Homo sapiens: one gene and its partners. The protein of the gene in region 2 purifies or fractionates together with the protein of the main gene of each other region. This does not show direct contact. Each region holds a gene or a part of one and is shown on either strand. Other genes may lie near its edges. The genes, in order: DCAF6, PFDN1, KATNB1, GIT2, PLEKHA6, UGGT1 and ARHGAP32.

Evidence for each region.
Region 1: the proteins of PFDN1 (region 2) and DCAF6 purify together in Homo sapiens (co-immunoprecipitation; 2 studies listed by BioGRID and IntAct, with this or other methods). This does not show direct contact.
Region 3: the proteins of PFDN1 (region 2) and KATNB1 purify together in Homo sapiens (co-immunoprecipitation; 2 studies listed by BioGRID and IntAct, with this or other methods). This does not show direct contact.
Region 4: the proteins of PFDN1 (region 2) and GIT2 purify together in Homo sapiens (co-immunoprecipitation; 2 studies listed by BioGRID and IntAct, with this or other methods). This does not show direct contact.
Region 5: the proteins of PFDN1 (region 2) and PLEKHA6 purify together in Homo sapiens (affinity purification with mass spectrometry; one large-scale study listed by BioGRID and IntAct). This does not show direct contact.
Region 6: the proteins of PFDN1 (region 2) and UGGT1 fractionate together in Homo sapiens (co-fractionation; one large-scale study listed by BioGRID). This does not show direct contact.
Region 7: the proteins of PFDN1 (region 2) and ARHGAP32 purify together in Homo sapiens (co-immunoprecipitation; 2 studies listed by BioGRID and IntAct, with this or other methods). This does not show direct contact.

Annotation. Positions count from the first base shown.
Region 1 is NC_000001.11:167,935,235-167,939,698, forward strand, and holds the start of DCAF6 (DDB1- and CUL4-associated factor 6), read left to right. Parts: upstream 1-1,448; 5' UTR 1,449-1,677; coding exon 1,678-1,774; exon of another isoform or gene 1,775-1,838; intron 1,839-1,844; exon of another isoform or gene 1,845-2,018; intron 2,019-4,464. Other genes in the region: MPC2 (mitochondrial pyruvate carrier 2), read right to left, coding at 499-607. UniProt on the Homo sapiens protein: Ligand-dependent coactivator of nuclear receptors. Enhance transcriptional activity of the nuclear receptors NR3C1 and AR. May function as a substrate receptor for CUL4-DDB1 E3 ubiquitin-protein ligase complex.
Region 2 is NC_000005.10:140,299,938-140,304,535, forward strand, and holds the start of PFDN1 (prefoldin subunit 1), read right to left. Parts: upstream 3,165-4,598; 5' UTR 3,137-3,164; coding exon 3,104-3,136; intron 646-3,103; coding exon 479-645; intron 1-478. UniProt on the Homo sapiens protein: Binds specifically to cytosolic chaperonin (c-CPN) and transfers target proteins to it. Binds to nascent polypeptide chain and promotes folding in an environment in which there are many competing pathways for nonnative proteins.
Region 3 is NC_000016.10:57,748,826-57,752,769, reverse strand, and holds part of KATNB1 (katanin p80 WD40 repeat-containing subunit B1), read right to left. Parts: intron 1,944-3,944; coding exon 1,843-1,943; intron 1,510-1,842; coding exon 1,468-1,509; intron 1,130-1,467; coding exon 1,046-1,129; intron 831-1,045; coding exon 715-830; intron 241-714; coding exon 169-240; intron 1-168.
Region 4 is NC_000012.12:109,947,552-109,951,495, reverse strand, and holds part of GIT2 (ARF GTPase-activating protein GIT2), read left to right. Parts: intron 1-179; coding exon 180-329; intron 330-2,649; coding exon of another isoform or gene 2,650-2,673; exon of another isoform or gene 2,674-3,944. UniProt on the Homo sapiens protein: GTPase-activating protein for ADP ribosylation factor family members, including ARF1.
Region 5 is NC_000001.11:204,258,586-204,262,529, forward strand, and holds part of PLEKHA6 (pleckstrin homology domain-containing family A member 6), read right to left. Parts: exon of another isoform or gene 3,375-3,944; intron 2,924-3,374; coding exon of another isoform or gene 2,864-2,923; coding exon 2,721-2,863; intron 1,156-2,720; coding exon 673-1,155; intron 1-672.
Region 6 is NC_000002.12:128,191,960-128,196,381, reverse strand, and holds the end of UGGT1 (UDP-glucose:glycoprotein glucosyltransferase 1 precursor), read right to left. Parts: 3' UTR 705-4,422; downstream 1-704. UniProt on the Homo sapiens protein: Recognizes glycoproteins with minor folding defects. Reglucosylates single N-glycans near the misfolded part of the protein, thus providing quality control for protein folding in the endoplasmic reticulum.
Region 7 is NC_000011.10:128,965,219-128,969,162, reverse strand, and holds part of ARHGAP32 (rho GTPase-activating protein 32), read left to right. Parts: coding exon 1-256; 3' UTR 257-3,944. UniProt on the Homo sapiens protein: GTPase-activating protein (GAP) promoting GTP hydrolysis on RHOA, CDC42 and RAC1 small GTPases. May be involved in the differentiation of neuronal cells during the formation of neurite extensions.

The DNA of each region.
Region 1 (4,464 bases), on a different chromosome or scaffold from region 2:
TGGATGAAGTAAAGCATGCAGTTTGGGGGAGGGCTCAGTCTGCAGGCCTCTGCCAGCAGCAGCTGAAGAAAGTGACCTTTACTCCAAACCCTACAGTGCGACAAACCACCCATCCAGCTCTGCCTAGAGTGGGTTAATATGCCACAATTCGAAAAGAGAAAGAGAATGAGTGTTTCATGGTGGCCCCAGACAGTTTGGTGGCCGCAGAAGTTGAGAAGGCTCAAATCTGGAGATCAGGTTTGGGTTGGAGTCGTGCGTAAGGGAGCGGATGTCACATAGGTGGGGAAGGGAGCTGACTTGAGATACGTTGGCTTAGGAAGAGATGTTGCAGGAGAGAGGGTGAAATGCACAGGCTAGGAGAGTAGACGGCTTCACTTGAAGGGAAGGGATTGGGGCTGTGGATGCCTCTAGAGGCAGTTGTCAGAGGGCCTCTAAAAGGTCCATTTTAGAGGAAGCGAGAAGGAAGGTCTCGATAAGGAGCCATTCAGGGTCCATTACCTGCTGGATGGTTGTACAACGGCCTCAATTTCTCGGGCAGCATCAGCTCCACTTTATCGAGGAGCCGGTGGTAGGTGGCCCGCAGGCCTCGGGCACCGGCGGCCGACATCGCCGCCGAGGGATCGTTGGCAGCCGGGTGGGAGCGTGGCTGTGTTCTCGTCCCTGGCTGACAACGAAGGGGAGCTAGTCACTTTTCCTGCCACGACGACTCGCGTCCGCCTCTCGCCTGGAGTACCCTTCCCGCGGCTTTCCCTGCCCGCTGTGAACCGAAAAGCTGCGGCCCGCGCCCCGCGAAGGTTGAGGGGGCGGAGGCTGCCGACTGCCAGCCCCCGGTCCGCCTCCGGCCCCCGGCAGGAGAGAGGGAGGAGCCATGGCAACAGGTGCCAAAATAATCACCTCACCAAGTCTGCGCTGCGCCCTGCTGGCAGCGCGCTTGCGCAGGCCGAGCTGCCCGCCATGATTGGCCCGCCCCGAGGCGCGGGCGGGGTCGAGCGGAAACCTCCTCCTTCTCCCCATGCCCTCGAGGCCATGTTGGAGAAGGGAAAGTGAAGCTGCGCTGGTTCTACTGCCCTTTCACTTTGATTAAGCAGGCCCGTAGTTAAAATGGGTTTTTGGGCCTTCAGTGCCTAAAGATGATGCCGCACAATTCTCTTGCTTCTTTTCACTGGAGACTCGTGAGCGAGAGACTACAGAATTGAGTAGCTTCTCTCTCTACTCGTCTTTTATCCCTAGCGACTTAAGGATCTGGTTAGAGTGGCCCGAATGCATTCTTCCAGGGTGAGGGCAGCCGCAGCACACACCAGCCTCAGTCCCCAGGGTGGTCGTCATCTCGCGAGAAAGGGTTGGCGGGGAGGGTATCCAGGACGAGGAGAGGGAGGAGTCGCCATCGCCTCCGCCTCCGCCTCCTCCTGTTGGAGGGGGGCTGAGGGAGGAGACTGTTGCTGATCTTTGGATGTTCTGGTTAGTCTAAGAAGGAGAGTATGAGGCGAGCTCCGGCCCGGGTGCGGCCGGGCTTCAGGGGCCCAGGCGCCGCTGCTGCCACCGCCATCTAACGCTGCGCCCTGGAGGCCCGGCGCGCGGATGGTGCCGGTGCGGCTCGGGTGTTGAAACGGGTGTCCCCTCCCCCTCCTCCCCTCCCCCACGCGGTGGTCTCCCCTCCCACCCGGCTCAGGCAGAGCCATGTCTCGGGGTGGCTCCTACCCACACCTGTTGTGGGACGTGAGGAAAAGGTCCCTCGGGCTGGAGGACCCGTCCCGGCTGCGGAGTCGCTACCTGGGTGAGCGGGGGCCCCGGGGCGGAGGCGCTGAGGTCGCCGCCTAGAGTGGGGGAGGGGGCACGCTGCCGGGTCTGTTGGAGGTGGGACGGCGTCTCGGTGGGGGCGCCCGGAGACTCTGGGGTGTTGGGTGGGGCCTTGGTTGCCGAATTCCGTGCCGGTGCCTCCCCCAGTCAAGCCCCCTGTGCATGCTGCCAGCCGCCGCCCTTGCTGGGTTTTTCTCGGAGGGCCGGGCCGTGGGCAGAAGGTACTGGCTTGTAAAGGTGTTGGGGTCGCTGATGGGTTGGGACTCGGGAGACTTGCGGAACCTCCAGGAGCTGCCGCGTTTAGAGCAAAAGTTAGCTCTTTTGCTCTTTTCCAGCGCGCTTTCCCCGCTCAGCCGAAGAACCTAAGTTGTTGCCCACCCTCTCCTTCAATCTCCAGAGGGTTTAGGTGTCGGCTGCGACGCGTTGACCACCCTCAGGGACTTCACGCTCCAGACAGAATCCGTGTAAACTGTTTTTGCGGCGCTGAGCCAAAACCTAAAAGTGATAGCTGAGCTCTCCCCACCCCCGCGCGCTCTCCCAGTTCCACTCTGCTCTTCAGTTCGTTTTGACCGCTTAAAGGTGGTGTAGGGTTTCACGTTCCTCTTCCCACCCCTGGAAAACACACTTGGCATTTACAGTTTCGTAGTTAAGCTTTCTAAAAACAACCTTCAGTACTTGGGGGAACAGTATTCCACTTTTTTCGTTTTGCATAACATTTTTTTTTTGAGGATTCTAGGTCACGCCCGAGTCAACTAAAAAGTTTGGTTTCTTAAAAATGGACGTACTTAGTAAAGGTCTTTTTTGTTTCTTCCTGTATACTCTTCATTACTCTTTCTTTCTATTTGGAGATACGGCAAACAACATCATAAAATTTTTTTCTTTCCAGTTTTGCCACTTGCTAGTTAAAAAGTGTTTGTTGCTCTCATTTGTTTTTGATTTCAAGTAAAGAGAAGAAAATGAAATCTCATTACAACCAACAGTTCTGGTTTGTAAATTATTTAAGAAAAGTTAGCATGCAATTTTTTAATTCTTTTTAGTGTCTCAAGTAAAATACGAATACATTTTGTTTATAAAAACTCAATAAAAATGAAGCAAAAATCCCTTTGATCCCTCCCATTCAATTTCACTCCGCCACCCTTAGAAATAATATTTTCTGTTTTCTGAATATTCTTCCAGACCTTTTTGTTTGCATTCTTACAAGTACATATGTACATGTACAAATGCTGGGGTGTGTGTGTGTTTGTGTGTGTATGAGAGAGACACCTGAGTGCATGGTGTCATATTGTAAACATTGTTTTCACTTCTCCACATTTTGGAGATCTTTCCATGGCAGTAAAAATAGATTGATTCTGTCTTTTAAATTATTACATAGTAGGTAACATTATGAAGTACCATAGGGTACTCAACCTTTCTTCTTTAAGTAGACGTTCGCCCTTACAGCATTTTAATGAACATCATTCTACAAGCTTCTGTGCATTTGTTGTAGGATAAGTACCTAGAGTGGTGATTAATCATTTTAAAATTGAACATAGCTGGAGTCTGGTTTTTAAAACTATTTACCAAAAAAAGTGTGCAGTATTTCTTTTAGAATTTATTTGCGGAGAAAGAACTTAATTTTAGCTTAATAAAACAAACGTTAACATTGTTTTGCATGGATACATTTATAATTTGGTCCTTTATCTCAGTTGGACAGTTTAAGTACTTGTATATAGTTCTATATTTTAGTGTTTTCTTTTGGTTCAGTTACTTCAGCTATATCTACAAACGAGTTAATTAAAATATAACAAAACCATATACCTGCTTTTCCCCCTCCTACTCCAACTCCCTAATGGAAATGGAATTTGTGTATTGGGTCTAGGGGAATTGAAGGGTTCACTGACTATATTAGAAAGCCTGAATTACAGTTTTTCAAATGTGTATGTATACATACAGGGAGTTCTTTATCTTAAATAATATTTTAGATATGATAATATATACTCTTAAAATAGGACATTTTTGGAATGACTTCCTTTAAAAGTGGTTTTCTAAGTACTTGAAAATACTTTTTGAAAGTATCGAAACTTGAAAATGTTTGCAAAGAACTAATTTATTGGCCTTTACCCTTAGTAGACCTTTACACTGTTATTCAGCTCTTCTATACTACAGTGCTAATCCTGGCTTTGCATTCAGGAAGCAGCAAAATCCACATTGGTAATGTTTGAATTAGTGATGGTTTTTTTTAAAAAATGACTTTCCCTCCCAGTTTTATTGGGGTATAATTGACAATTAAAAATTGTTATATTTAAGGTGTAGGACTTGATAACTTCATATACAATCAAGTTAATTAACATATCCATCATGTCACATAATTACCATCTTTTTTTGTGTGTGGCGATAAAATGACTTTATCATTATTATTAATTTTATTTTTATTATTAGATAAAATGACTTTTTAAAGTACAGTACTCTTGGCCGGGCGCGGTGGCTTACGCCTGGAATCCCAGCACTTTGGGAGGCCAAGGTGGGTGATCACTTGAGGTCAGGAGTTTGAGACCGGCCTGGCCAACATGGTGAAACCCTGGTCTTTACTAAAAATACAAAAATTAGCCGGGAGTGGTGGCGTACGCCTGTAGTCTCAGCTCCTTGGGAGGCTGAGGCAGGAGAATAGCTTGAACTTGGGAAGTGGAG
Region 2 (4,598 bases):
GGAGACGGAGATTGCAGTGAGCCAAGATCGGGCCATTGCACTCCAGCCTGGGCGATATAGCGAAAACTCCGTCTCAAAAAGAAAAAGATACTTACTTTAAACCAAAGTTTCTTTTGTTTTGAGACAGAGTCTAGCTCTGCTGCCCAGGCTGGAGTGCAGTGGCATGATTTCGGCTCACTGCAACCTCCACCTCCGGGGTTCAAGCGACTCTCCTGCCTCAGCCTCCCAAGTAGCCAAGACTACAGGCAAGTGCCACCATGCTCAGCTAATCTTTGTATTTGTGGTAGATACAGGGTTCCACCATACTGGCCAACAGGCTGCCCTCAAGTGATCCACTCGCCTCGACCTCCCAAAGTGCCAGGATTACAGGCATGAGCCACCACTCCTGGCCTAACCCAAGTTTTAAGATGAACAAATTCTATTTAACTCGGACAAAAGCACTCCCAAAATAACTCCATTAAGGACACATTTTACTTACATTCTTCCTACACCTTCATACATGTTAGTCTCATCTACCAAAGTCATGATCTCTGTATCTGTAAGATGTGCATGCTTTTTCGTTCTGTTTAGCTGTTCAATCTGTATGTCTGCGAGCTTCACCTTCTGTTGAGTGTCAATAACTTTGGCTTGAAGCTCTGTGAAGGCCTAATAAAAACAAGTCCATGATTTAGTAGGTAAAACATTTTACAGGAAACATTTACCTCAAATCCAAATATATTAAAACAAAATATGCTAGCCAGAGACAAAGCTGTGAAATTTACCAAACATCAATAAAAGTCAACATAACTGTAAACAATCAAGTCACCATACTAAATACTGAATTTACAATCATCAGAAGATACAATCAGTGTGAAGCAAATCAAATGCATATTAAGTAATAACCATATTAAGTAGCAAGTACTCAAGGAGTAGTAAAAGAAATAAATGCAATAGTCAAGGATGAAATCCAGAGATTCAAAACAAGAACCATAAAAGTAATAACTCACTACATTTGTATTGCACAATTAGGTTTCAAAGCACTTTCTCACATTAGTTTGAAATATTAACATGGGAATATTAATATAAGAATATTAATGAGGAAATATAATAAATATCTCATTTATGCCTCTCAGTAATTCCATGAGTTAGCATTGGCAGTCTCATCATCCACAATTTACAAATTAAGTAACCAAATGAGTTAAGAGATAAAAGTGGCTTGCACAAGGTTGAACAACTACTGGGGGGAAGGCAGGTGTTATTTAAATCCATTTCTTCTAACCCCTTAGTTCAGCAATCTTTCCATTCCACTGTCTATAGTAATATTCATAATATGAACATTTTTAAGAGGAAGACCAAGAAAGAGAGTGAGAAAAAATGCAAAGCACTGGCAAAAGAATTGCATCATGATCTTCATCCACAGATACCAGGCCAAATTTGACCCTTGCGTACACTTACTTAACTGGAAGATAAACAGTTCTTGGATACTTTTGTTGAAGTGCCTGGAATGACTTTCACATGCTGTTAAATTTGTGCCTTAATAACATCTGTGACTGCAATGCACAGCAAAGGCTACTACATAATTTTTATTGTGACCTTGTTTTCACCTACTAGTAAGGTTTTGAAAGATTTACTTTGGGGAAGGGGAGGGGCCTGAAATTTCCTATTTGTCTCCACCCAAAAAAAGGACCCTGTAAAAACATTAGAAGATAAAACCTTTAAACAAGTTTTTTAATTAATTGGTTATCAAAATTATTCATTTTAAGTTTGTAATCATTTTCTTAGTTTGCATTCACCGCCCGCAAGTTTCAAATGTAGCAATAAATTCAAAAGTACCGGGAGGCAAATCCATTCACTAAACCCTGATTTAAATCGGTACTTTTAACAGAAGAAAAGGTAAATTTTTAGAATGCACAATTTTGTTTTGAAATGTAAAATTCCAGGTATCATCTGACTGCTCTATACAGCTTGCTAAGGAAGCTAGTATACCATTAAAGATGAGCTAGTATACTGTTAAAGATTAGAGACTCCACCTAAGAGCTAAATTTACAAGATTCAAGACAAGAAGAACAAAAGCAAGACACAAACACATAATATCCTCACAACACTAACAAAAGCTTCATTTGTTAGAAGCAACAGCTATTTCGGCTGTCCTATTTCTTTTACACAAGTTGACCACAGGCAGTCTTAACTAAGATGTTGCTCATCTGAAGAACTCAAAATAGTGGTCAAAAAAGTGTGAGATAAGGCAGAGAATACTGGATTCTAGTCCCAACTTCTGACAGACTTTTCTGGCACTGGTTCCTTTTCCAGAAAAGTAGATTTAAAATAGATAAATTCTAGGGTCCTTTCCAATCCACCCCACCGCACAAAGCATACTGGTTTGGGGTCATTAGTGGTGTTAGAATGCTGATCATTCTTAGATAGCAAAAATCTGAATAACAACACATTTATAAGCAACTGAGGAAAACAGGAAACCCAATTCCTTCCGATACCGGTTTTATTTGGAAAACTTTACTGGTTTTGTTTTGTTTTTGACAATTCCTTCAAAAGAAGGAGGTTTTGTTTTGTTTTGTTTGACGAGTCCTTCAAAAGAAGTGGAGGGGGGGCAAAATCCTGAAATGAACATTGCTGCTACAATGCTTGGTTTTCCGAACTGTAGATATTGCAACTTTCAAGGTACAGAACCGAATAAATGGCCTAAAAACAAAGGTTGGACTTGGAGTTTTTCAAAGCAAATGAGGCAGAATTACGGATGCCACAGCTCAGGCAAGGGGTCCGAAGGGACCCCCATTTGAAATGCTCTCTTTAGTTCTTACTATGAAAGTGAGTCCCTGAAGCCTCCAAACGCAACGAAATGTCTCTGGAGCTCAGAAAGACTGGACAAGCCCGAGACAGGCCCGCAGACTTACCCGACCCAGACCAACCGGCTCCTACCCAGCAAGAGCCGCTCGCCCCCCACCCCGTTTATGGAGACCCAGTGAGGCCTTAGGACTCTGGGAAACCATTCCCTAGTCCACTGGACCCTCCTTCCTTCTGCAAGGCTCGTGCCTCACTTGATATTCTTGTCTATAGTCCCCTCAGCCTCCAAAAAGAAGACCTCCGCCTGCCAAAGACCCTCTTTTACCTTCTTCAGCTCTAGATCCACGGGGGCGGCCATCTTGGTGCACTGTAAGCGCCTGCGCAGTGGGAGTTGGACTGAAATAGGGTGGGGAAGGGCGCGTCTTACTTTGTGCGCCGGTCTTTCTTCTGCGCCTGCGCATGAGTTGGACTAACCGGGCTTCTTATCTTTCTCTGAGAATTGACTCCTGAAATATTTGGGTTTCGGATTCCGTGTCTTCACTACCTGACCGGTCAGGTCTGGCTTGCTCCTCCGTATCTTCCAGACATAGCCCAACGCGCAGATTTCCCATGTGGCTTTAAGCAGTTTGCCAGCTAGCTTAATATGTGCTGCTAAATTGAGATGTATGTAGATGAGGTCAAACCCTCATCAGTCGATCAGTCCTTCAGCTAGTCGCTGTGCTCTCAGGAATGAGTAAGAGTAAGTCCAGAACCTCAGGCATGACAGTTTGGGAAAGACTATTGGAAAGCTTGTCTGGAGTGTTCTTTCCAAAACGAACTTATTACTTCCAAAAGCTTCCCAAAGACATTCTAGGCACAGTGGTTCTCAAGAGAGGCTGAATACGTTTGTTTAAAAACAAAAAAATGCAGGTTCTCTGGGTCTCATCTCAAACGTACTCAGAATCTTTGAGAATGGGGTCTGGAAATTTGCACTTTTGCAGACTACCCCAGTGACCTAATGGTGCAACTCCTCCGCGGATCACTTTTTTGAGAATCTCTGCCATAAAAGGACCTGGCATTTGAACCAGAATAGATAATAATTGACTTTTGGAAATGGAAAAAAAAGTTAACCTACTCTAAAAACTGTTATGCTAAGAGAAAGTGCTACATAAATAATTAGGAAATTTATTTTATTTTTTAAAAAAAGAAAGAAAGAGAGAAAGAAAACAAACTGTTAGGGAGATGAAAGGGCAGGGAATTTGGAACCAGCCTAATCTAGATTCAAGGCTTGGTCTGCCTTTAGCCTATGTCTGGTTCCATTTACTAATTGTGTGACTTTAAGCAAGTCACTTGGATATTTTGTGGGGTTTTTTTTTTTTTTTGTACGTTTGTTTGTTTCTTGAGACAGGATCTTGCTCTGTCACCCAGGCTCGAGTGCAATGGTGCAATCACGACTCACTCCAGCCTCTACCTCCCGCGCTCAAGCGATCCTCCCACCTCAGCCTCGTGAGTAGCGCTGGGACTACAGGCGCGCGCCACCCACACTCAGCTAATTTTTATATTTTTGTACAGACGGGTTTTCACCTTGTTGCCCAAGCTGGTCTCAAACTCCTGAGCTCAAACAATCCGCTCGCCTTGGTCGCCCAAAGTGCTGTAGTGCTTTGATATTAAAGGCTTGAGCCACCGCACCCGGCCACATTTTTTTTTTTTTTTTTTTTTTGAGCCAGGGTCTCGCTCTGTCACCCAGGCTGGAATGCAGTGGCACGATCTCGGCTCACTGCAACCTCTGCCTCCCAGGATCAAGTGATTCTCCTGCCTCAGCCTCCCGAGTAGCTGGGATT
Region 3 (3,944 bases), on a different chromosome or scaffold from region 2:
GGCGAGAGATGGCCGTGGGTCCTGTGGCACCCAGCCTGGTCCCCACCCCGAGGAATCCAGAGGGCCCAGGGCAGGGAGGGCGCAGCAGCGGAGATGGGAAAGGCCCACCCACAGCCACGCCCCACTGCCGGGAGGAGCGCTGGGCCGCCCACCCCACAGCCTGCGTACCTGACGGGCCCAGGCTCCCCTTCGATGCAGCTCACCACCTGGAACTTCTCCAGGTCCCAGAAGCGGATTGTCCTGCAAAGGCAGCCAAGCTGTGCTGCGAAGCCTATCCCTCATCCTGGCCTCCACATGTCCCTGGGAAGCCAGCTTTTCTCTAGAAACCTCTCCCCCAGGGCAGGGCCACCAGGAGCAACATCTGGGGCAGAGCTGGCCCTGACTTTGCAAGGGGGAGGCTCGGCCCGATGGCCCTGGCCCCAGGGTTGGCCCCAACAGCCACGAGCCTCCCTGCCCTATGGGGTCCCACTAGATGCCTTGGGTCCCAACCTGCCCATGAAGCCACAGACCTGGGACACTGGGGCCAGGGAACCAGAGCCAGGGGAGATGGACCAGGGTCCAGTCCTGGCTCGGCTGAAATCCAATTCAGTCCACACAGGATCATCAGACGTATGACACCCCAGACAGCGACAGACCGGCAGTAGAGACACGCACAGAGGACAAGGCGGTGAAGGACAGCAGTCACAAGCAACTCGCCTCGCTCCTCCTCCTCACCTGTCAGAGCTGCCGGAGGCCAGGAGGTACTCGTTGGGGTGAAACTCGACCACGTTGACAGGCCCCGTGTGACCAGGGAACTCAGACATCATCTTGCCGGCAGTGAGATCCCAGAGCTGGAGGCAGGGCAGGGAGGAGGTCAGGGTGACCAGGCATCTTGGCTGCCCACCCTCCCTCTAATCCAGGCCAAGCTCTTTATCCACAAGCTACCTTCCACTCGGGATAGGCTTGGGACATGTGAGCCCGATCAGGAGGGAGGTGAGGACTCAGCCTGCTGTGATCAGCAGACCCCAGCCCCCAGCCCCTGGGCCCAGGTCAGGCCGGGAGCTACCTTCACGGTGTGGTCATCTGCGGCCGACGCCAACCACTTCCCATCGGGGCTGAACCGGAGACACCGCACGGCCTGGCTGTGCCCCTGAGGGAGGACACGGCATGAGCTCACCCTGGGATCCTGGGCCCAACAGACCTCTCCCTGCCTCCTCACTCCTATGGGACCCCTTCCATCTAACAACACTGGTTACCCGCCTGGTTCTGCTTGGAGCAGTTTGATGAACGTGGCTCTAGGGGATTCATGCAGAGCCAGGGGATCCAGGTGGGCCGCCCATGGCGCTCCTGCTCAGCTCCAGGTCTATGTTTTATGTTATCACCCATGTGGGACAGCCGTCCCCTCCACCCCCTGCTGGGGTCTGGGCACCACACCACACTCAATGCCCGCAAGGTGCTCATGGAGTCACCGACAGAGCGCATCCTTACCCTGTATCGGAAGACACAGCCTTTCCTCCTGATGTCCCAGAGCTGTGGGGGAGAGAGAAGCAGAGGGGCAGAGTCAGGAGAGGTCAGAGCCACGACTGGAGGAAGGTGTGCAGTCGTGAGCAGACGGTGGGGCCCAGCCTTCTCTAGGTCGTTACTCCCCACGGAGACAAGGACAGAAACTGCTCACTAAAGCTGGCATTCTGAGCAGAAGCATCTGGCAGATAGATGCCTGCCACCCGCTTTCCCTAGGATGGTGTGGATGTGGCTGCAGAAAGGGAAGAGGTCCCCTCAGCAGGCATCCAGCACTGAGGGCCGGGCCGGGCTGGTCCTGCCACAGGCCCAGCAGGAGACACGGGGCACGGACCGGCCTCTCACCTTGATGTTTGTGTCCTGGGAACCAGAGGCTACAAACTCGCCGTACGGGTGGAAATCCAGGCTGCAGATGTTGGCTTTGTGTCCCATGAGTGTGCGAAGAACTAACAAGAAGGAAAGCAGAGACAGTGGCTAAGAGGCAAATGAGAAGGCTGGCAGAGGAAGGGCTGCTGTGGGCATTTGTGTGTGCGCTTTTGGATTAGCTGCACAGAAAAATAGAACAATAACACACATTTTTAAAACAGTAGGAAACAATCAAGGGTCCCACCACCCTAACAACGAATTTTCTTTTCTTCCTTTTTTTTGAAAAGGAGTCTTGCTCTGTCGCCCAGGCTGGAATGCAATGGCGTGATCTCGGCTCACTGCAACCTCTGCCTCCCGGGTTCAAGCAATTCTCCTGCCTCAGCCTCCCAGGTAGCTGGGATTACAAGCATGTGCCACCACACCCGGCTAATTTTTTTATATTTTTGGTAGAGATAGGTTTTCACCACGTTGGCTGGGCTGGCCTCCTGACCTCAAGTGATCCACCCGCCTTGGCCTCCCAAAGCGCTGGTATTACAGGTGTGAGCCACTGCGTCCTGCCAACAACTAATTTTCCCACATTTCTCTTGAGAGGTGACAGCCCTATGTTACCTCAAGTCTGCAGAAATTGTACCACACTCTCCCCACAGACTGTGCTCCAGCGGAAGCAGAACCAGGGAACCACCACACTCAGTTCAGGCCCCATGGGTGTGGAGCTTATGGTTTGCAGGGCACTGAACCCCACCCAAGACAGTGCAAGGAGAGAGACAGACCAGGAGAGGTTCAAGCTGGGAGAGAAGCTGCTTGGTTGGAAAGAGAAATCCAGGAAGGCTTTATGGAGGAGGTGGTATTTGAGTAGATGTCAGTGGGTGGAGGATGAGGGATGCTGTTAGGTAGATGGAGGTGATGGGCAAAGGCCCTAAGAAGGGCAAGTGGAGGGCATGGCTGGGGTGGCCCTGGTGCACACACCAGTCTTCTTGGGTGACCTCTGTCCAAGGGATCTTGAGGGTGGCTGTGAGGACACACTGAGGAGCAGTGAGAACTGAGAGGACACAGGGAGGACACGCGAGGACCAAAGAACTCCTGGGGTGGGGCCTGATCGCCTCCCACTGCCCTAGGAACCACATCTCCTATCCTTTCCTTGAAGGTTTTGCAGGCATCTCCATGGCCAGGAGCGGCCCAGCCTGGAGGCAAACCTTGTGTGTTTCAGGGTGTCCTCCAGTACCACTCAGATTTGTCTCATGTTTCCTGCTTTTGGAAAGATTCATAATTCACTATCTGAATGAAACTGACCATCCCAAGTGCCAGGGTCAGGAAATGTGGGAGTCCAGCCATTCTTAGTTTTGAGCCAAGGTGCAATAGGTCACCTTGTGAGGTAGTGAGCTCTCTGTCAGAGGAGGTATTCAAGATTCCATATATAACACTTTACTGCAGAGTCAAGATCCAAGCACTGGGTGAATTAAATGAACTCTACTGTATGATCTTCTCTACCCCCAAAGTCAGGATGTGGGCTCTGGCATCAGACAATACTGGGATCAGCCTTGGCTCCGCTCCTCACTGGTGGTGTGACCCTGGCCAATCACTTACTGTCTTTGGGCCTCATGTTGGGTCACAGAATGGAGTAAACATACATAAAGTGCTTAGCACGGGCTCTGCACATGGTAAGTGCTCAATAAATGCCAGTCTTAATTAGTCCCATTCACATTTCTTCCTGCACAAGGCCTGCCTTCTGCTCTTGGCTGTCCCGCAAGCTGGGCCTTCTCTCCTCCTCCCCAGGCCTCAGTGCCCCTCTGCAGCTGGCCCTGTCTGGCGCTGGAGCTGGGTCTGGATACTTTCACATCCCTCTGGAGTCTGTCGAATGCATATCCAATTCACCTGCACCAGAATCTCTGCAGCTGTCACTCCTTGCTCCGTGTAGCTATCAGGTGCTGCTGGGGGCTGGGCATTGCCTCCTGGCCAAGGAGGCCACGCTGGCTCTTGCTCCAGTCCACACCCGCTCCCAGCCCACTCAGCTTGGATCCCACAGCAAGGCTTCCAAAATCCTGCCCTGCCCAGAGAGGATGTGGCGGAGTCCCACCCTGTGT
Region 4 (3,944 bases), on a different chromosome or scaffold from region 2:
TTAAATAGTATAGTGACCCTACTTTTATGTTTTAGTTTTGCATTACTCTCAGAGGCCTTGATTTGGTTTGACTAACTTTGCAATTCAGCTGGCTTGGTCAGAATTTGAAATTCTTGAGCTGTTAGTCTTTAATGTTCTCGTCATCTCAGATTGTGAACGTTTTCCCAATTTATTTTTAGAGCCTAGATTCAGATTTATCAGATGGACCAGTCACTGTACAGGAATTTATGGAGGTCAAAAACGCTCTAGTGGCTTCTGAGGCCAAGATACAGCAGCTAATGAAGGTGAATAACAACTTGAGTGACGAGCTGAGAATTATGCAGAAAAAGGTAACATGTTAATAAATGCCAGGACGGTTGACGCTTTAATCCCATAGTACAAGGAAGAATCTCAGGCACTGTGATGTGGTCCGAGGAAAGAAAAACAGTTATTGTAACAGCCTTAGAAATCTTTGGGCCAAGTTGTCTTTTTGAAGCAGGATGTATTTGGATATTTAAAATGAAATATATCCAGAGTAAGTTCCCCAGGTAGGAGAAACCTAACATCTATTTAAGCATTTGTGCCCATTAGAATAACCCTTGGACTATTCTGTGCTTCCTGGAAACCTGGATGGGGCTCCATGGATGTGATTCTTCCCATTGCTAGGGAAGGATGATCACACCATGGAGACAGAGCCAATGAGAGCCCTGGGCAGGGGCATGTTTATCAGCATTCAAACCCTGCTCCCACCCTGGCAGCCCTATCCCACATCCCCACCTTATTGCTCACCAGTTTTTACTACTAACTTGTATTATCCCCAGAGCCTACAGGAGGGCCTGCCACAGAGTAGGTGCTCAAAAAATAAGAAAAAACATTTCATTTGTACTAGGAAGAGCTGCACACTGGTAAAAAACAATCTCATTTGCTCAGCATTTTCTCATTCATTACCTTTTGAGAGAATCAGAACCGTGTGAATATATTAATCCCTAAAAGGAGTGTGGTTGATGGTAGCAAGGAATACCCTTAGTAGGAGGGGGATTGTGTATGCAACTCCTTATGAGATGGCTAAATAAGGGAATTCGAAAAATTGCAAATTTTGCCCATGACTTTGTGGGTATCACTCATCATTCAGCTCTAAAATGAGATTTGGACACTTTACTTAACCAGAAACAAAATGAAATATATAATCTATGTCTTTAGGCTGTCATTTGAGAAGTAAGGTTTTCAAATCATTTTCAAGACCTGAGGACGTGGCACACTCCATGTGTGCCTGGACTCTTTTCAGTGCTGCTTCCTAAAGGAAGGTGGAAGAACTAAAAAGGGGCCCATGCCCCTCTGTTTACTAGGGAAGGAAATTGCTGTGCACTTTTGCCTGGGGTTTGGTCTAGGATTCTTTTGATGTTGACTTCTAGAGCATTTTTGAGACTTTTTGAAATAAATGGCTCTAATGCCTATAGTAGCAGGGAATGAAGAATGCTTAAGATCAGCTAGCCTTAAACGAACAGACACTTGTTCTGTGTCTCCCAGCCCTGTCTAGGGCTGCCGTGCAGCTGTAAACGAGACAGACCGAGAGCCCCTTTGTCATAACATACAGGACCTGTATTTTCTTTGCCTTCTTTGGAATATATTTTATTTAGTGGATTATAGTTTGTTCCATTAATTGGACTAATAATTTTGACCAGGTGACTATTTCTGAAACATGCTGATTTTGCCACTGTAAATCAATCTGCTGCACATCACCTTTTAAAATCTAACAATGCTTCTTTTAGTATTTTTGGAAATCACCAGAGAGAGCCTCATTATCTCTGAAAGCAAATGTCTTGAGCTTCTTTGAGAAATGCAAAGTGAAATTATTTGCTTTTGCTTATTGATTATCTCATCAATTCTTAGAAGTGCTTTTGATTTCTGAAACTATTGAATTGTCTATAACTTTTTATTTTCCCTTATACTCCTTCCAAATAAAAAAGTGTAGCCTGGTTCTTATTAAGATAAACGTCATTAAAATTTATGTGAAGACATCTCTCTAAATACAGAGTACTAACATTTTTAAAAATTGAAACCAAGAACTTGTGCTCATGAGAACACATTCAGACAAAATCCAGGCATGAAAAGTGTTAGGATAAAGTTTCAGATTTCAAGGCCTTAACTAAATAACTGCCACAGAGGCTTTTTATACAGACAAACACGTGATCACATGCACCAGTGCCCCATTGAGGGACCTGTGTCAGTTACACACCTCAGTCCTTGAACCTTGACCATTTCACTCTAGGCCCTGGGTTCTCTAATGAATAGTTTCAACAGGCACTTCATGCCTGTCTGTATCCTGGAATGTAGAAATGTTCAGGGCTGCTTTGTCAGCTGCTTTGCAGCTGTTCTTTCCCTGGAAAGGGAATTGCAGATATGAGCTATACCCTGCCAGCCTTTGTGATATAAAAGCATTCTATCATTCTGTAATGGCTTGCTCTTCAGAGAAACAGAATGAGTGGTCTTTTTGTGGAAGAGGCAGTAAGTCACACTTTCACAGCAGTTTGGCATGATTAATATAAAGTATATGGAATTTGTTTATTTAGCAAAGATGTATTGATTATATTTCAAAGTTGGGTAAAGTTTTTAATATACATAAAGTTGACAAAGTAGCATGATTTGTATCTGATCTTTCACATTTAACAGTTGCTTGGAAAAGATGCTAATTAATGAAGAGGAGCAACTACTATTGGTGTATTTTTCACAGATTGGTGCTTTCTAAATAAAAATTGAAAGTAACTCCTAACATTGAATGGGTTTGCTACTGAAAAAGTAATGATCTTCTGGTGCAAACAGTTGCTTGTGGACTTAAACCTTGGCACTGGTGGGGAATTTGGTCAGATTTTACAATCTCTGTCAAAGAGTAGACAGCTGAACTCACACCACACCCAGCTTATAGAATGTCCATGGAAGATGAAGGCGCACCAGAAGGGAAGGACCCTGCGCAGAATGGACGTGGTGAATGGTGTTTAAAATGCCAGATGCCAAAGAGTAACACGATTCCCTGCTGACCCCTTAACTCTAATCCATCCAGCACCATGGAGCAGCCTGCATGTGAGGAATGGAAGGAGCATTCAGGGCCTCCAAGTGACAGTCTCTAAAATGGGGTGGTGCCAGGCAGATTAGCATGTTCAAAGCTGACACCACTGAGGTCGTGTTTTTTGGGTGACAAAGCCAAAGGAGAGAAAGGCCAAATATTCCAGCCCTGGCCGAAAGATGATCACTCACCAGACGGAAGCAAGCGTGCTGCGTGGAGCATCCATGCGAAGATGTCAATTCCATAGATCAATAGGTTTCCAGTTTTCTTCGTGATATGTTAATATAGCAAACTTACCATGATCCGGTTTTCTCTTTTTTCTTTTTTTTTTTACAAAGTGCTGAATTGTTTGGAATATCAAGAGTATTATGTAATAAAAACTTGTTGATCATAATTTTTCTTGTTGGCTTTTTGGAAAGCAATAGGCGATCTGATTTTTCACAAGCTGAACTTCTGTCTTTCTTGCTTTGCAAAGCAACCCTAGTCATCTTTGTGCTGCTTCCATGGTGTCTGCTGTCATTTTTGGCCTTTACAAATTGCTCAGGGCTCATTTGAAAAGCAAGTTACCTAAATGATGTTTTAATGATCTCGAACTCTTGCTTGAAACAGCCTTAGTAATAATCCAGTGTACAGCTTGCCTGCAAACATTTCCCAGCCCCACCATGACAAATTTTAAAGTGGTTAGACATTTTGTTTTGAGGAAGTCCAAACCACAACTTTTCCACATTCAGAAATGAAGCTATTTAATTTGCTTACGTGATGAAGGGAGTTGATTGTGTTTCACCCAATCCAGAAGAAAGGGTCCTTGTTTGTATTGGCTTTTTACTTTCAGCCCGGCTAGCTGTTACTGTCCTTATTGTTTAAAACTGGTAGTTGTATTCATTTACTTGGTGTTTGCTTTTTC
Region 5 (3,944 bases), on a different chromosome or scaffold from region 2:
CCATGGCCTTCCTGAAGCTGTGGCCTGCAGTCCCTGGAGCTGCCCAAATCCCCAGGGAAGGAGCCTGCAGCCCATTTGCCCTGAGGGACACCATTGGGCCCAATAAATGTCCCCAGATATTTCAAAGTCAGTCATTGGATAAAGGCGTAAATGGTCATAGATGGCCATGTTGGGACCAATGAGCTACTTTGTTTTGTTTTTTAACTTCATATAAATCATGGCTTTAAAACAATTAGAGTTGTTCAAAAATGGAATGAGTTGGTCTGGCAGTTAGTGAGTCTCAAGTGGGTGGAGCACTGGGGAGAGGATGTTGTAGGAGGGCCCATAGCTTGGATGGATGTATGACTATAACAACTTCAGGCCCCCTCCCAAAGCCTGCTGTGTTCTGGGCTCCCCAGCACGCCGTGGAGAGGCACTGGGGCACTCTGTCCCTTCTTCTGAAGGAAGCAGACAAAGAAACCAAGAATCAGGGACAGCAGCCAGACTCTAATGGTGGAGCCATGGGGCAGGCAGGATTTGGGCAAGCCAGGAAGCATGGGATTTGCTTGGTTTCCCAACTCAGCCTGCTTCCAGAAGGTTTCCAACAGGGGATGCCTCGTGGGCTATGACCCCACTCGCACGCTCTAGCCATAATACCATATCAGCCCCACCCCAGCCGCCGGCATGCCTCACCTCCGAAGGTCTTCAGGCGGGGGTACCCCCCGGCGCAGATTCACCCACTGCTGAAGCTGGTTCATGGAGCTCTTGCGCTGGGCAATTTTGTCAGGGTTGGTGCGTGGTGGGAAACTCCGCCGGTGTCCCCCAGTCTCTCCATCCTGAGACGGGAAAGCTGTGCTCCCTGGCCGGCTTGGGGAGTGGTACTGCCAGCCATTGGGCTGGGCAGGCTGTTCCCCACCCCCTGGCACTCTTGGGCCCTCGGGGTAAGGGCTGCCCGGCTCTGAGGCTGGCTCCGGTCCAGCTGGGAGGCCATTGGCTTTCACCGGAGGCTCTTTCTTGACTTCTGGCCTCTCAGGCCTTCTCTCTGCCTTCTCACAGCCTCGGCCATCACCCTCCCCTCGAGTCTTGGCCTCTGGCTCAGGCTTAGGGAGGCTGTTGTGGGGTGGCTGCTGGTGGTGCTTGCTGGGTGGGACGTTCTCCGAGTCTGGCTTCTCATGGCTGCAGGATGCCAAGGGAGATGCTGTCAGTGACTCTAGCCCAGCATGGAGTGGGGCAGGGGGTGCCAGACTGGGAAGAAGAGGAGTGGGGAAGGATGGGCAGGGAGGTGGCTGGAACCAGGATTCTATGAACTCCAGTTCTGCTTCCTAAGTCCCACCCCTTCACCTTCTCGCTCCAGCCTGGGAAATTATTATACAACCTAATCCGCCCCTGCCCACACCTGCTGTGTTAACTCTGCCCCCCACGTCTTCTCTGCAGGTCATTCTCCACCCCACTCCCCTCTGTCAGTCTGCTTTGAGCCCAGCCTTCAAGCTATGGCATGACTAACCTCACCTAGTCTTGGTCCTCTCTGCGATCTATCCCTGACCCAGCTCCCCAAACTGGGTTTGCACTCACATCAGTAACTGTCCTTGATACTCCAGTGACAAAGGCTTGTCACGGGGCAGCTGTCTTTCTTATAGAAAGTTATTTAACTGCCAAGAGTCTTGGGCTCCTCATCAGCAGAATGGGCATAATAATAGCTCCCCTCCTAGGACTGCTGTGAGATAAAACATGGCGGGCACCAGGAGCAGAAGTTTCTGCTTTCAAACTCACAAGCACATAAACACGCTAGTTCCCTTCTCCAAAACACATTTCTTCCAGGACTGACTTTCCATGAGAATACAGGCCCCACAAGGGTAGGAACATGGCAGACTTTCTTCCCCTGTGTTCCTAGCACCCACTACAGTGCCTTGCACATTTATATTTACAGTAAGTATTTGTGAAATGAATGAATGAACTCTTGGAATTATGCCCCTTGGTTGAAGCGAAGATGGAAATTTGTGACAATTTTCCCCCTACAGCTTCCCAAACTCCACATATTCAAGTGGGATTGTTGAAACATTGCTTGGTAAACATTTCTAAGATATGTGGACTTGGAGCCTACACTGTGAAACCCCCTTTTCCTGGATCCCCCTTAGCACCTAACTCAAGACTCCACATCCAGTTAAGGGAGAGACAGACGCTGAGACCGTGGGTGACGGCGGGCGATGGGAGCGGCCATATGTTAAGAGTTTACTGCATGTTGAGTGTTTTACACGCACTCTGTGTAGGCCTCACAACAACCCTATGAGGTAGAGTTGTATTTGCTGGTTTTTGAGCAGAGGAACCTCGGGTTCAGAGAGGGTGAGTCCCTTGCACTGAGATCACGCTACAGCCAAGTGGACAAGGTGTGATTCAAACCTGAGTTTATTTTCCTCCAAAGGCGGTGTGCTTAACACACACAGCCGAGAAAAACCAGCAAATGACCCTGACCTCTGGCTCCTGGCCAGACCCCAATGGAACCTGGCTTTTCTCTTGGCCTTCCCGAGCTCAGAGAGAAGAGGAGGAGCTGGCTAGGGGAAGAGAGACTTCAGGCTCTGAAATCACTCAGCCAGGCCTCCCGCCTGGATGCAAGGAGACGGCTCACACATTCTCCAGGGCTTCAAGTAGGCACACTGGGATTAGCAATGGCCCAGAGCTGGGTGTGTCTTCCATTCCCCTCTTTATTCTTCCTGCACCCCCACACTCAATTCCCTGGCACTCACCTGTGCCGCACAGCTTGGGGCACTGACTTCTGGGCTGGAGGGATCTGTACTCGAGCAGCCTCCCCCATGGCCTGGATCCAGGCCTCTTGCTCCTCGGGGCTCTCGGCACTGAAGAAGTAGGTGCGGACCCCGGCATGCTCAGCCTGTGGGGAGAGGCAGCGTGTGGAGCTGGCCTCGGCCTCATCCACCCAGCACACAGTCACCTGTTGGGAGAAGACACCAACGCCCACAGAATGGGCAGTCAGTTGGGCCATTCCCTGCACCTGGGGCTCTTCCCCATGCGGAGCTCAGGAGCAAGGTGAAGAGGGCAGCTTGCAGCTACCCCGAGGGTTCCAGCTGGTACCCACGTATCCACCTTGGCTGGCTCTCTGGGCACCATTAGGCAGCCCAATAACCAGGTCAGCCTACTTGCCCCACCTGGGGTAATTAAAGCAGGAGGGACAATGATCACACCCATTCTCCCGGCAAATTCCATGTTTGATTTCAAAGGCAATGACCCCATGTCTGGGAGAGAGGACCCCCTGAGCACATGCCAATCTTAGCCCCAGCTTCACTGCTGAGAAGCTAGCACTGTCTCTTCCACGTGGAGAGACAGCCAAGCCCCTCTCTGCAGGCATGCAAAGCAGGCACTGGCATACAGATGGGGCACACTACCTAGTTGGTGGCTGCGAGCAGGTACTGCGGGCGGGAACCCAGAAGAGAGCTCCTGTCCAGAGGAGGGGTCCTCACGCGGTCAGAAGGAGGAGAAGCAGAGAACAGGTCAACCAAACACCAAAGGGAGAGACAGAAGACGACGTGGCAGGAAACGGTGAGGAGCACAGGGAAGGGGGAATATTCAGATTGTCCTCTTCTACTCAGCATTCCCCCGGGAATGGCAGCACCCAACAATGCCCAGTTCTGCCTACCAAGGGGTGGGGAGTGGAGAGCTTGCACCAGGGAAATTCAGGCTGGTGGTGGAGAGTGAGTCAGGGAATCGCAGTGCTAAGCCTGGCTCTGCTCCTGACCAGCTCTGCAACTGCAGACAAGTTGTGGTTTTGCTCTGGTCTTCACTGATGCATCTATTTCACGGGAAAAGAGTCTGCCTGGTGAAATTCAAAGTTCTTAGGCCACAAGGAAAAGAGGCCACAGGACTAAATGCTTTCTGGGACCTCAGCACACTTCCCAGTGAGATCCTCAGTAGCCTAGCTTAGCCCACTCAACAGGGGACATCTAGCAGTGATTCAG
Region 6 (4,422 bases), on a different chromosome or scaffold from region 2:
TATTACAAGAAAAAACCCATTTAGTGCCAGCACCCAGTTTAAACCCCTGAAGGGCCTTCTTGTGCCCCCAGGATCAAACCCATTCCCCCTCTCCTGGCCACGTGCAGGCTTCCATGCAGCTCCCTCAAAAACACTAGCTCAAGCTCCTCCCCTCTGCCCACCCCTCGCCCCTACTTAGTCCTCAGGCTTCAACCTAAGCACCACCTCCTTGTAGCAGCTTAGTCCTGGTCCTGCACCTTAGGGCCCTCTCTTGCGCCTTCACAGGCACCAGGTGCCCCTCCCCGCCCTCCCCATCATCACACAGAGACTACATCCTCAATGCATATCCACCCCGGAGTAGGAGCTCAGAGAACTGGCAAAATGCAAAGTCCATGCCACCCTCCTAAGGAACTCTGCCGGCCCAGGGGTCTCATGACACCTTCTTGCCTTGAGGTTCCCCCTCCCACCCCACCTGTTATGCCTGCCTGCCAAGTTCTGCCTGGGGCAGCTCCCAGAGGTTGAGGACCTGGAGGAGACCTGGGTGCTTTGGATCCTCAGAATCCAAAGAACTGGATGCAACCCGAAGCCAGCCCCAGCAGCAGACAAGACTCAGGTAAAGCCCTCGTTCCTCTGTCTGGGTTTGCAGCTTCTGCTAGATGAAGGGGTTGGACTTTGTGCTCTATCAATCTGCCCTTCCTAAACACAAAGGCCAAATGACTGCGCAGTTTTAAAGAAGAGAGGAAACGTTTACTGTGTTGAGCAGACCTTATTTTCATTACAGTACCAGGAAGTTCATTCTCAATTCCCTTCGAACGCAGAGATTCTGCAGACATTTAAAAGCCCAATGCTGTTCCCAAGCAAGAGGCAGCACCTGACAACAATGCTGCATTTAATGGAGCAGGATTACAGTAACATTGGATATTCATAAAGAAGATTTTTAAAGTACACAGTTTCCTTAAAAATTATAACATTTTCCCACCTTTATTTTATTATTACCACGAATAACTGGTTGGTTGGAAAACATGGTACTTGATAATCTTTTGTTGTCAACCTTAAGTTAATGTATTTTGCTTTCTGCTGTTGTTGTTAAGAGACGTTATGCCCATTTCTCTGGAAATCTCAATGGTGACAAGTAAGGCAAGGCATACAATACATTCCTGTCCCACTGCAACCTTCCACAGCTAGCCTCTGCACTGCTGGGTATCTGGGAAAGACTCAGGAGAGGACCTTTTGCTTGCAAATCCTCAAACTCCTGACCTCGGGTGATCCGCCTGCCTTGGCCTCCCAAGGTGCTAGGATTACAGGCGTGAGCCACCACGCCCGGCGCTTGCAAATACCGACCACAGAGTTTAACCTTCATGGGCTCCTTCTAGGAAGCAGGCAGCCACTTGCCACAGACTTTGCAGTTTGTTTTTATAAATTGTCACTGATCAATGACAGCCTGAGGGAATGGGACCCTCTACTCAATTCATTGACTTCCTGCTTCTACTGCCTCCCAGAAGTGTCATTTCATTTCTGTATATAGAGAAATGAAAGACCAAAGAATGAAATGAGAAATCTGTATCCTCTAGGCATTTCAGGTATATACCCTGAAATATCAATAACCACTGAAGTTCATGATGTCTCATTTGCTTGAATTCAATCAGTTAATTACCAAAATACTGATTAAGATCTTTCCCTCACTACCTCAAGGCAGAGAAAACATGAATTTAAAGAAGTTATCTTACCAAACTACACACATGACAAGCTTTATTTGATTAACTCCAATCATCCCACAAAAATGTGCCCATAAAATCAAGTACTTAAAAAACTAATTATTAAAATTACACAACAATGGGACAGGCGCGGTGGTTCACGCCTATAATCCCAGCACTTTGGGGGGCCGATGCGGGTGGATCACTTGAGGTCAGGAGTTCGAGACCACCCTGGCCAACATGGCAAAACCCCGTCTCTACTAAAAATACAAAAATTAGCTAGGCATAGTGGCAGGCACCTGTAATCCCAGCTACTCAGGAGGTTGAGTCAGGAGAATCTCTTGAACCCGGGAGGCAGAGGCTGCAGTGAGCTGAGATTGTGCCACTGCACTCCACTCCAGCCTGAGCAACAGAGCGAGATTCTGTCTCAAAAAAAAAAAAAGCAAAAATTAGCCGGGTGTGGTGGCGCACACCTGTAATCCCAGCTACTCGGAAGGCTGAGGCAGGAGAATCACCTGAACCCAGGAGGCAGAGGTTGCAGTGAGCCAAGGTCACACCATTGTACTCCACCCTGGGCAACAAGAGCAAATCTCTGTCTTGAGGGGGGAAAAAAACCACGCAACAATGGAATACATATATTTAAATAACTGCACATAATACACCCTCCATTTTTGTTACCAAGAGAAAGCTTCCATCAGGTAGCTTTACCAATACATTTCCATTCCCATGAAATGCAATACCACAGTACTAATATTCTATTCAGAAAAAGACTACAATTCCCTTGTAACTCTTTTTCTTTTTCCCTTGTAACTCTGAGTTCTTTCTTTTAATCGTTCAGGCCACATAGGTAAGGCCATTTTAGAAAAGGACTGCTTTCAAGTATCTAAATATACTTCCGGAGGGCGGGGGAGGAAGGGAGTCATTTTACACTTGTCACTCTCAGGGTGATGTCTGACTGTCCAAGTCACGGGGTCAGTAGAGCAGGTTTCCTGGCTAAAGGAAACTCTGGGAGTTCTTTCCTCCCTACCACCTGGGCCAGTCTCTTCCCCCTGTCCCTAGCTCTTGGCCCTCTACTCAGGGACTTGGTCCCCACAATCAGATGAAAACTCATTCAGGCAGAGCCTTGACAAGGTTCAGAACACGAGGGCTTGACCGGACATAGTGGCTCACGCCTGTAATCCCAGCACTTTGGGAGGCCGAGGTGGGCAGATCACCACCTGAGGTCAGGAGTTTGAGATCAGCCTGGCCAACCAACATGGTAAAACCCCATCTCTACTAAAAATACAAAAATTAACCAGGCATGGTGGCAGGCGCCTGTAATCCCAGCTACTCAGGAGGCTGAGGCAGGAGAATTGTTTGAACTTGGGAGGCAGAGGTTGAAGTGAGCCAAGATCGCACCACTGCACTCCAGCCTGGGTGACAGAATGAGACTCTCTTAAAAAAAAACCCACGAGGGCTTAAGGACAGCAGAGCAAATTAAGCTCCATTTATGGAAACTGTTTTAATTTTTTTTTTTTTTTTTTTTTTTTTTTTGAGACGGAGTCTCGCTCTATTGCCAGGCTGGAGTGCAGTGGCATGATCTCGGCTCACTGCAACCTCCACCTCCCGGGTTCAAGTGATTCTCCTGCCTCAGCCTCCCGAGTAGCTGGGACTACAGGTGTGTGCCACCATGCCCAGCTAATTTTTGTATTTTTAGTAGAGACGGGGTTTCACCGTGTTGGCCAGGATGGTCTCTATCTCTTGACCTCATAATCCGCCCGCCTCGGCTTCCCAAAGTGCTGGGATTACAGGTGTAAGCCACTGTGCCTGACCGGAAACTGTTTCTTAACATACATCATGCACGTAATCTTCGCTCTCCCAAGAGGCATTCACCCAAGCAGACAGGCAAGCATCTATGTGTTCAATTCGAAATGCAACAATGACAGATGTACAACTTTACCACTCTTAAAGAAACTAACATGCCATCCATTATTCTCCATGTGGGAAACATTCAGTAAACTTCTAAAACCAAACACAGGACTCTGGCATATCCCCACACCCCCAGCAGCAGGCTGTGACAGGCTTTGATCTCAATCAAATGCCACTGTACACAGAACATAAAAACAGGCTCAGGATGCTGCATGTCACTCTGACATATCACATTATTTCATATTACTCTGTCACTTACTCACAAACAAAAGTCTCCACTATGGCATGATTGAGAGAGAAAATAATTCACTTTATATAAATAACAGCTAAGAACAACATACTGTGAACAGTTTCCAGAGTTTGAACATTCAGCACAATCAATTCTTACTTCTTGGGAAAAAAATATCTTACCTATCTTTTCTGTTACAGTATGCCTTCTTGGAGAAAATATTTTAGTGGTAACATCATTTTCTGGGGCATTTGGTTAATTTTGAAAGATGATTATGCCACATGAACCAAAAAAAAAAAAAAAAACTGGCAGGAGGAGGAGGGTCCTAGGCCATTCTGGAAGCAAGCTGGGTTTTGCATTATTCAGAGTCAACTATTAAGCTGACTTATATTAGAATGGCGACAGATAAGAGGCAATGAGTGACACCAGGACATGCACAGCACACAGAGAATATGGTCTACTCTTGTCTTCCCTGCACAGATTAAACATAAGAGGCTTGGTAGAAAGACATGGGGAAAGGTGCTATGGGGGCCAGCATTTGGAAAGCATATATCCCAGTGACTTGAGTATTTGCTATGCAACCTCCTGGACGAGAAACTGGGAAAAGGCACA
Region 7 (3,944 bases), on a different chromosome or scaffold from region 2:
GCTGTACCAGTACCAACCACACGGCAAGCGCCAGAGCAGTGTGACTGTTGTGTCCCAGTATGATAACCTGGAAGATTACCACTCCCTGCCTCAGCACCAGCGAGGAGTCTTTGGAGGGGGCGGCATGGGGACGTATGTGCCCCCTGGCTTTCCCCATCCACAGAGCAGGACCTATGCTACAGCGTTGGGTCAAGGGGCCTTCCTGCCCGCAGAGTTGTCCTTGCAGCATCCTGAAACACAGATCCATGCAGAATGAGCCCTGCGAGCAATAGAGTTGAAGCAGCCTCTGCTGGACAGTGGACTGTTCTATTTTTTTCAATAACCAAAAAGATTAAACAAAAAATACTATAAAACCCCTGACCACATTTAAAAAATGATAATAAAAGTAAACAAATCAGCATCTTTTTCCCCTTCCCTGCTTCATTACCCCCTCTTCCATCTATAGACTTTGTCATTTTTGTCTTTAGAAAAGATCTGAAGGATGGTAAAGCCCCGTGCTGAAACCCAGTAGAGAAACCTGTCTCAGGACACACTTGCCATCTAGGGCTAGCTTGAAAGAGCCTGAGGACTGCCTTTAACTGAATTTGAATTCAGCATTGTCCTTTCTTCTTAGTATTTGCTGCATAATTGAGAGCAGTTCACATCGATTTCCTGGTAGGCGTCTGCATTCCCTGTTGTGTTCCTGCTTCTCCTTCAGTAGCTGCACAACTTGCGCAGATCGACACACTGTTGTCACTTCATTCTCCCCGTCTGAGAAGGATCTTGTGTTCAGTTAGAGTCGTGGAAAAATCCCTGATCCTTCAAGGTCAGTCAGACAGTTGGCAACATTATAATTAAAAATAAGAAATTAAGACTTTAAATTAAACATTTGGTAGAGTCATCATAAAACACCAGACCACTTAGACTCAGGCTGAACCATACTCTTTCTATTCTTATTTTTCATCCTTGTTCCTCACGGTTCAGTGAACAGGCTCATATCATGACAGAATGGACTTTTAAAAGTTAGTACTTAAGGAAACTTCTTTAGGTGGAAGAAAGTAAAGTTCTTATTGTCAGTGAACTTTATTAGCACCAGAAATCTCTATTGATGCTTTTAATGCATTGCCTGCCTTCAGGTTTTCTTCTTACCCCACCCCTCAATAAGATTTGGTGAATTGTAATTCTAGTAAAACATGTCATACCATTGGTTTTCCTAAATTATCAACTTTCTTTCATTAAAAAAAAAAAAAAAAAAAAAAGCCCAGCATGGTTTGACTGGATAGACACGCATAATTTATTATGAATATAAATTTCCATGTTTGTTTCTGTTCCTAAACCAGAGTACGAGGTCCCTGGGAATTTAAGTAGCTACGCATTATCTATTATTAGACTGCAAGTTCCTGCAATAACTGCTTAGTTCACAGCCCCGTTTCACCAGTGGAGTTCTGGGCAGTTATTGCTGTCCTAAGGCATTACTGTCGTTTGCTTACTCTATACTTGTGTGGTCACAGTCTTCTTGTAATTACCATCTACACCAGCATTTCAGGTATAGCTCTTTATAACTCTGGAGACATGTAAAACATGTTTAACACCCACGAGTTTTGAAAGTTGCATTCCTTATTAGAGTAGGAACTCTCTAGCCCAACTCCATTCTATGTTCTCAGCTCCCTCCACCCCCCAAAATACATCAGACTAGCAAGGCAGTCCTATGTTTACAAAACGAGTTTAGATTGTCATTTCATTCCATAACTCTTAATAATACTCAAGTTTTATACATTCACGTATTTTAAATGCTCGGTCTGTAGAAGACACTAGGAGAATTGCATTCCAATTACTGGATGGTTGCTGCTCTGGCTTTTTAGAACTTGAAATTAATTTTTATTTAGAGCAAAGGAGGAAATCTTTTAAGAGGCTAAAATCATGCTGCTATTATTGCTGTGAAATTGTATAAAGATTAGGATTCATGCCAGTTTTTATTTTAAAAAATAATGTGCATTTTAAGGGTTTATATTTAGAAAAAAATAAAATGTTTCAAGAACAACACATTGATATGTGGAAATATTCTATAAGGTTTTCTTTTGTTCCCTTAGAATTCATTGGAGGGATGCAGTAAAAACTGTAGTAGAAACCTTGAAACACCCATATGTGAAAAGGTCTGTGGAAATTGAGGCCTCTACATTAAAAGTGCAGAACCAACTGTTTTACAGTCAAAGTGCTAGGAAACCTGATAGGATACTTCCCTTTGGCACAAAAACACCCTGGGTGCTACATACAGGAGTATGACCTTTGGTGAATATGTGGCACTAATTTTTTTTACCTTAATCATATTCTTGTCAAGTAGGCAACCCATTGCCCCTTGGAGACCACACCAGCCCTGTAAGTTCTCACCAGCAGCATGGAGATTAGGAAGAGGGGCTGCTGTGACCAGGAGATACACACGGCTTTAAGTAACTGAGAGCCTAAAGAAAGTAACCCAGGGAGTCCGGTCCAGTTTTAATATTTGTGGATTTGTTGTCACACACATTGTTTAGTCCTGAAACTAAAACCTATTTTATAAATAGTAGGGTTAATTCCTCGAAACAATTTCTTTATTAATAAATGTCCTGTGGGTTTAGAAATATCAGGTAAATATTTGAATACAGAATGATGATTGCAATTACTGTTACAAGCGTGAAACACAAACTTCAGATCAAATCTAGAGTTGCTTCATTTAATGCATGCTAGCAACAGCCTTAACTTTGGATTCAGTTATTTGAAACACTTTTCCGGCATCTTTCCCTTTCTAATGTTGTGGGGTGGAAACCGGATGGCAAATCACTGTGAGCCGGATACCTCAGCACAGTCCACCTTGTGTGTGACTTCACAAATGGGGGACTTCACAAATGGGGTAACTGAATGTTATTACTTTCAAATTTTGACATGGAGCATTATGATCAAGGAAATGGAGCTGCCTTATACATTAAACCCGTGATTTAATCCTATTGACATTTTCATAGCCATGCCTCCAGATTTTATCTTTTTGGCAAAATTCTGATTCCACAGTTTGGTCTGATTGAAATAAATATTCCCTGGACGTCTGGCTAAAAATTTTGCTAACAATCCCAGAGGTGCCATTTTCTTATTAATAAATTTCATTGGAGCCTTATTTCTTACTATATTCAATTTCGTTTCAAACCTGCAAGTCCCTGGGATGGTCCCACGACTAGGGCCTGCACATTTCTTACAATGGCAAAGCATTTTTTAAAATTTAGGGTCAGGTTGAAAAATTCTAGGACTAATTCTGTAGAGAGGAGGGACTGTTAACTAACGTGAGTGGGGACGGAGGAGTAGGTTACCACATTTGGAGCAGTAATAGATGCAAACGATGTAAATTTGAAATTTGCCCCTTTAGTTAAAGAAGGAGCCTGCAAAGTCCATTTCTCTGTTTTCAGCCCTGTCAGTCACCCATTTAGGATGTTGGCAAAGTACTGCTTGAGCAGAATGTGTAAGAAAGTAATAATGAAAGCAAAAGTATGTCAGACAGTTACTTCTTCCACATGGTTAGAGGCATGTGATTTTCAGCACTGTGTGTTACAGAAATGTCAGGAATGGTGTATTATAACGTGTGCAAGATAATGTCAGTGTGCACAGAGGGTCTTTTTTCCTTATCTGATTAGTACTGTTAATGTTCAAAGAATAAAAATGGTTTTACAGTTTAGATTCTGAGATAGCAAAACCTGATTTTTCAACCATGACCTGCATGAGAGAAGCATCCTAGGAAGTCTTAGATCATACTTTTGAGTTTTTAATTTTAATTTATATAGTGTTTTTTTATGTCTTAATATTTTTGTGAACTGGTGTAAATTGTTAATGCATATAAGCTTGTGTATTTTTGTAAATAGTTTTGTGATTTATTTCTTGCCCCATATGTAAATATTTAGAGTCTCATTTCTTGCAAACTTATTTGAAGCTGAGTTGTGGGTTTG